Homo sapiens: one gene and its partner. The protein of the gene in region 1 purifies or fractionates together with the protein of each later gene. This does not show direct contact. Each region holds a gene or a part of one and is shown on either strand. Other genes may lie near its edges.

What was found. The genes of interacting proteins can lie anywhere in the genome.
Region 2: the proteins of NPC2 (region 1) and HK3 purify together in Homo sapiens (affinity purification with mass spectrometry; 2 studies listed by BioGRID and IntAct, with this or other methods). This does not show direct contact.

The regions. Positions count from the first base shown.
Region 1 is NC_000014.9:74,486,742-74,490,390, forward strand, and holds part of NPC2 (NPC intracellular cholesterol transporter 2 isoform 2 precursor), read right to left. Parts: intron 1-3,649. UniProt on the Homo sapiens protein: Intracellular cholesterol transporter which acts in concert with NPC1 and plays an important role in the egress of cholesterol from the lysosomal compartment.
Region 2 is NC_000005.10:176,882,198-176,885,846, forward strand, and holds part of HK3 (hexokinase-3), read right to left. Parts: coding exon of another isoform or gene 3,629-3,649; exon of another isoform or gene 3,614-3,628; intron 2,621-3,613; exon of another isoform or gene 2,547-2,620; intron 1,938-2,546; coding exon 1,842-1,937; intron 1,673-1,841; coding exon 1,573-1,672; intron 1-1,572. UniProt on the Homo sapiens protein: Catalyzes the phosphorylation of hexose, such as D-glucose and D-fructose, to hexose 6-phosphate (D-glucose 6-phosphate and D-fructose 6-phosphate, respectively).

The sequences.
Region 1 (3,649 bases):
TTAAAGGAATTAAACTTCAATCAGAGAAATTCCAAACATTCCTAGAGTCTTATCTCGCATTCTTAATGGTAAGGGTCACAGTTTAAACTTAAACCTTGAAGACGTTTGCTTCAACCTTCCTTTGGATGAAAATATTCCTATTTTCCCTTTCTTTTTCTAGCATATAGATTAGCATGTAAATCTGATGAAAGTTGTTCACTACAGGAACAACTACATTTTTTTTTTTTTTGAGATGGAGTCTTGCTCTGTCACCAGGTTGGAGTGCAGTGGCACAGTCTCAGCTCACTGCAACCTCCACCCCCCGGGTTCAAACCATTCCCTGCCTCAGCCTCCTGAGTAGCTGGGACTACAGGCGAGTGCCATCATGCCCGGCTAAGTTTTTGTATTTTAGTAGAGACAGGGTTTCACTATGTTGGCCAGGATGGTCTTGATCTCCTGACCTCGTGGTCTGCCTGCCTAGGCCTCCCAAAGTGCTAGGATTACAGGCGTGAGTCATTGCACCCTCCCTGTTTTGTTTTTGTGGTTTTTTTTTGTTTTTTTTTTTTGAGACAGGGTCTCACTCTGTCACCCAGGCTAGATGCAATGGCACAATCTCAGCTCACTGCAGCCTCAACCGTCCCAGGCTCAAGTGATCCTCCTACTCCATCCTCCTGAGTAGCTAGAACAATAGGCATGCACCACCACACCCGGCTAATTTTTGTGTTTTGTAGAGACAGGGTTTCACCATGTTGCCCAGGCTGGTCTCAAACTCCTAGGCTCAAGCAATTTGCCCACCTTGGCCTCCCAAAGTCCTGGGATTACAGGCATGAGCCACCGCACCTGGCCAAAAACCGCACTTTATGCGGAAACAGCTAGAAAGCAAATGTAGAGCCTGAAACTCCGCGGAGGAAGATCAGAAATGAATTACAACATCTTTCTACCTCAAGTTCTACATGAGCAAACACTGATTGAGGGAGTCTGCTATTATTGCTTGGAAAGTCTGCCAGATCCCAAAACAGACTGAACCTTTCTTGAATCTGGCTTCAAGAGTTTTTAGTTCCTGAATCATTCATTTTTAGACTCTATGGAAATTGTACCTTGACTAGCAAGAATGAAGGAAAGCAGAGGCATCTGAAGAAAACATCTCACAACAATGGTATTTATCATCCTTGTTTTAGGGGTTAGAAACCAGAAGAGCAAAGATTACTGAGATTTGTCCAAGGTCACATTGCCTGGAAGGGGCAGATCGAAGACTCAATGGGTGGGCCTGACTTGGAAGCCCTTGTTACCGGAACCTGAAAGAAGCTTTAAATACGCAGCCATGTTGATGAATGGAAGGACACCCCAAGGAAATTTGCATCTGAGAACTACTTGAGGACTCTGGATGAAGGTCTGTCTCAAACTCAACTTTTCAGGTTTCTTAATTCAGCATCGCCTCTTTGCCCCTCACCATGATTCTCTTTCTATCGTAGAGGTTCAACCCCTATATCCTCTGTGATTTTCAGTGATGAAGTATCTTCTATCCAGATTTTGTACCCTTTCTCCCAAACTGCTGGTAAATCCTTTGCCCAGTATTTTGTCTTCCTGGAATCCCTTCTTTCTTTCACCCCAACTTGACTTCCTAGAGAAATAAGCAGCACTATTAAAGGTATAGGTAAAACGATGAAAAGTGTCAGAATATCAGTCTTGGCTTTTAAAATTAGGCTGATTCAAGGGTGGGCATGGTGGCTCATGCCTATAATCCCAGCACTTTGGGAGGCCAAGGCAGGTGGATCAAGAGGTTAAGAGTTCGAGACCAGCCTGACCAACATGGTGAAACCTCGTCTCTAATAAAAATACAAAAATTAGCCAGGTATGGTGGTGCTCACCTGTAATCCCAGCTACTCAGGAGGCTGAGGCAGGAGAATCGCTTGAACTGGGGAGGCAGAGGTTGCAGTGAGCCGAGATTGCGCCACTGCACTCCAGCCTGGGTGACAGAGCAAGACTCTGTCTCAAAAAATAAAATAAAATAAAATAAGACTGATTCCAGAAGCCTACTCACTTCCGAGTAAGCAGACTATGGAATTTAAGAGGAACTACCACTTAACACTGAACAGAGGAGTGACCCTAAACAGAAAAACCACCTACCATCTCTGAACTAGGAATGACCCTTAAGAGAGGAACTACCTCCCACTTCTGAATTGGGAACTGCACCATTTTCACTGCACTTCTGCAGTTTCTTCAATGATTTAGTCCTGTTCTTTAAGGCCCACTTATGAGTCATGAAATATTTTGGCTCCAAAAACAACAGGAAGTACCTTAAATCTTGACTAAGGTTGTTAAGATCTGGATTTTTTCCAAGAATCAAGGGGATGAAGAGGAGTACAGAGGTTAAGGTCTTTATAGTTTCAGTACAAGCTTAGGGCACAAGTTAAGCTTAACTCCAAATAGCACTGACTCACACAGCCAAGATGGCAGAAGTGCCAGCTGCATTAAAGAAGAATACTGCTACCTGAGTCTGGGTTTCATTTCCTCTGAAATATTAACTTGGCCTAGGTCTATATAGCTGCTGGGAATGATACACTTGCAAATACTGCATATGTTAAAAACATAAGGATGAGACCTAAGAAGGTACTAGAAAGAGTCAGAAATAGGATTTATCCCTGGGAATCCTCAAAACAAATACATATTTTTCAAAATTAAAAAATTTAAGAAAAGAAATTGGATTCATCTGACTTGTCCAGGTTGTTTCTAAGTAGTTTCAAAAACTGATTTTAAGCACACATCTGCAATCTACAGATGTATACTCGATTTTGGGAACCTGCGTTCTTAAAATAAGTGTGTGTGTGTGTGTCTGTGTGTGTATGTATGTATTTTAATCTCAGTCTAACCAAGGACAAAAGTACTTGTATACAATAAATGCTTGACCAAAAAAGGTTTAAATAAAGCCTTTAAAAATCCCATTTCCTCCTGCCCCAGAGACTGGGCAGTTGAATGGGAGAGAATGCAGGTGAACTGCCTGATAACAGTGCCTGTAACAGGGTAAGTTAAGTTCTGCCATTCAGCCATCATTGCTGAGAGGCAGACTCTGGTGCCGGATGCCTGGGTTTGAAATCTCACTATCTCTGCTACTTACTGTATAGCCTCAAGGCAAGATACTTTACCTCTCTGGAGATAATGGTGTAGCTGAGCTAACACAAATACAGATCTTAGGTAAGTGTTTGGAACATAGTGATACATATATTTACTATTATTATCATATCTGGATTTAGTCCATGAGTTTAATCTAGAATAGCTGCTCCTGGGTAGGTTAGCAAGTTCCCTTCTGACACAAAAACTGGACCTCTCACCTCAAATATACTTTGTGGATAGAAATTATGTTTCTAGCCAATAGGATGGACTCTTTCTGTCTCAAAAGTGGAATGCATGAAGACAGAGGCAAACTGCAGGTTGAGAGTACATTATCTGCTATGCAGTCAGTCACCAGATTAGCTCAGTACTATAAAAGTATGATATGAACTCAGAAATCTAAGTAGATGTTCTTTGCTGCCTGTACCTACCCTTGGGTGGAACAGTCTCTTTAACTATCATCACACTGACCAACACTGCTCCAGCTAGGTCAGTAAATAGTACCTTGCAGTCCTTTATCCCTCAGCTTGCTTCTCCATCATTGCAAAGTTCTTAAACTGCA
Region 2 (3,649 bases), on another chromosome or scaffold:
CCGAGATGGCAACGATTCGGGCTCACTCTCTCTACCTCTCATGCTCACAGCCTGTCCCTGGTCCTGGTCCTTCTTCCTTCCCGACATCCCTCGTGCAGACCCTGCCAGCTCCAAGCCCTGGGGACCTTCACTGCCTTTCCCACCAACATCACCATCAGTGCATCCACCATGCCACCCCCAAGTGCTCCTACAATGCCCAGCTGTCCTGTCATTCCCCTGGGAGACATGTGACATCCCCCGCCCTCGCCCCTAGCTCTCTGCGGTTGAGAGGCCGAAGCTCCCTGGACCGGCCTGCCAGGCCCTTAATCCAACTAAGAGGTGCTGGGCCAAGAGCAGGGGACACAGAGAAATCAGAGACGAGGAGCCCCACAGTCTGGCCAGAGGTCAGGCAATGAATAGCCAGCTCTGACAGAGCCTCTGTGCCCCCGTGGAAGCACCAAGGAGAGCATCGTGGGAGCCCAGACCACGGGGCGAGTCTCTGCCAACAGGATCAGGAAAGCAACAGAGAGGAAGTGACTGAATCCAAGAAGCACAGAAAGAAAAAGGCATTCCAGGCAGAGGACGCACCCTGGATGAGGGCGTCTCCTTCCTTTCTCTGACACAGCTTCAGCTCCAGGAAGGTGGGCTCCTTGCTGGCCCCACCTGGAGCTCCTCTGTCCAGCTGTTTATGCACACAGCAACCTGGGCATGCCTCTCCCAAGTGCCTAACCGTGCCAGGTGCTGGGTTCAAAAACCTCCCCCTCAAGAGAGGCTGCCACATGCCTCGTGTTGAGAGACCAATGCCCCAGGAGCTGTGGGATCCCTCCTCCCCAACAGAGCCAAATCCTTTCTTTCAGGGCTTTCAAGTTCCACTCATCCTGGGACCCACTCCTTCCTGATCTTGGCCTCGCTGCTGCCCACGTGTAGAATCAAGTCACTCTCTGACCGCTACGTGTTGTTCTGGGCTTAACCCTTGCTGAGTGGTCGGTTCTGAGAAGGCAGAAATTGCCTCTTGTTTTATGTGTCTTCCTATTCCTCTGTCCAGTCCCCTGTGGACACAGGGTAGGTGCTTAATAAGGATGGAATCTTGGACTGTCTGAAGGACCCTCATTGCTCATTGGTCCCCTGCCCCCGCCCAGCTCCAAACACCAGGTGTGTACCATGAGCCAGGGACCATGCTGTATTTTGTCCCCTCCCATTTCATCCTCATGATGCCTTGAGACAGGCATTGTTACTCTTATCTCCATCTTAGAGATGAGGAAACTGAGGCTCTGGTGACTTGCCCAAGGTCATACAGGTGGAAACACAAAGCTAGTATTTCCACCCAAATCTGTACAACTCCAAAGCTCAGATTCATTTATCAGATGGGCAAAGTGAAGTTCAGAGAGCTTAAATGACCATGAGTCAGTCACTGAGCTGGACTATACACCCAAGCTCCAAACTGCCAGCCCAAGAGATTGTTCCAGAGCCCTACTGGGTCAGACCAGAGCAATCCCACATCCCCACCGCCAAGGAAACATCCAACCAGAGGAATCAACAGAAGGCAGCAAATTGCCAAGCAGTAGGGGCATGAAAGGGCAGGGCCCTCCTCACCGACAATGAGGCCTATCTCGCAACGGGGGTCCTCATAGCCACAGGACATCATGGTCCCCACCGTGTCATTGACAATGGCAACCACATTCAGCTCCACTGCCTGCACACAAAAGGATGCTGCTAGTTGCTGGGCAACGCGGTCGTCACAGCAACCAGCACTGGACCCAGAGGTCTCTACCGCAGAGGGCTCCCCCCTCAGAAAGTAGGAGACTCTTTGCTCCCCTCAAGGCCTGCCACAGCCCCAAAGCACCCCTAGAACAGGCTCCTACCTGTCTGCGAGTGATGGCTTCCCGCAACAGACTCACGACATCTTGGCCCTCGCAGTCTGATGCCTTGAAACCCTTGGTCCAGTTCAGGAGGATGCCCTGGGGTGAGACCGAGAGGAAGTGGCAGGAAGCTGGAGGCCCCTTCAGGCTCACTCTGCCTCTGCAAAACCTGCATCCATCACAAGCCTAGGCTTTCCACCCTCCCCAAGCACAATTCCTTGCCTACTTTGCTGTATGGTTGAAGGCCTTGCCCTCTGCCCGCTCCCTACTCCCCAGGAGGCTTTCGGTGTGCAAAAACCTATTAATAACCATCTAACCTACATTTTCCATTATTAGTTCCAGACAGTCAGAGGGTCTGGCCATTTTAAGACGTGTGCCCGGAAGGAATGGCCCTTTGTAATTGGGTTAGGAATTAACAGAGCTGGTAAAGTGAGTGCTGTGTGTGAGACAGGGGAGGACAGAGAAGGCTCAGAGGCCCAGATGACAGCAGATCCCACCCTTTCAGAAAGAACTCCAAGTTACTCTAGAGGAAGGAATTCTCAGCTTCAGGGATAGAGCCGTGTCAATGGGCGAGTCACTCATGTGTTCCAAATGCAGGGGCAGGAGGAATGGAAAAGCCAGAACCCAGGCCCCTGGGCAGGATGAAGGCTGAGTGCCCAGATTGTGAGAAAAGGGACTTAAACTTAGTGACACGGGGCTCAACTTTACCTGGAAAGGAATGCTGTTTTCTTAGTGTGCGTCCTCTGAGGGAGGGGGCAGGGGGAGCAGGAATTAGTCTACAGCTGTTGGGAGAAAATTACTGCTTTGCTCAGAGGAGGAGCATGGAGGGTAGGTCAGGAAATCTTTGGGGCAGAAGATTTTAGAAATAGTAAGCAACGTTTTCCTCCAATAATATGTCCTTTTATCCCGTTTTTTATTGTCCTAGGCTCATTGTCTCAAAAACAGAAAGCAGAGAATGTGATAGAGTGAGAGAAAGAACCCGTTTGAGAGAGACCAGATGATGAGTAAGAGCCCTGTGTGGGCTGCTCTCCCTAGAGTGGGGAAGGGGAGGCAAAGGGGGAAGTCAGACCCAGGTTGCTGATGACTTCCTGAGACAGGTGTCCTATGCCCTCCCCACTGGGCTGAACCCCTGTTCAGAAGGGATCTGAGAAATCTGAGAACAGAGGAGGCCTCTGCCCTCCTTCCCCAGATAATGCACAGGAAGGTGTCGAGACTCAAGAGAGGAAGTGGCAGAGGCAAGTGCCCAAAGAGCAGGGCCCGGGGCACCTCCCTGAGTTCCCACATCCCTGCAAATTCTGCACAGCAAAGGCTGCTGCAGAGCCAAAGGGGCTCCTGGGGAAGGCAATCCCCACACTGGTTAAGTTTTCACCCCTGAAAATAATGTGGGCCCAACATTTTTTTTTTAAGATGGAGTCTTGCTCTGTTGCCCAGGCTGGAGTGCAATGGCACAATCTCAGCTCACTGCAACCTCTGCCTCCCGGGTTCAAGTGATTCTCCTGCCTCAGCCTCCCGAGTAGCTGGAATTACAGGCACACACTGCCACGCCCGGCTAATTTTTGTATTTTTAGTAGAGATGGGGTTTCAGCATCTTGGCCAGGCTGGTCTTGAAATCCTGATCTCATGATTCACCCGTCTCAGACTCTCAAAGTGCTGGGATTACAAGCGTGAGCCACCGCGCCCAGCCTTCAGCACAGAAATTAAGTTCAGTTACAGAAAATTAATAAGACTATATTTCTTGCCCCCACCCCGCCCCCCGATTTGCACATGGAGTCTCACCTGCTTCTCACATCTTACAAGGAATAATCAAAAGG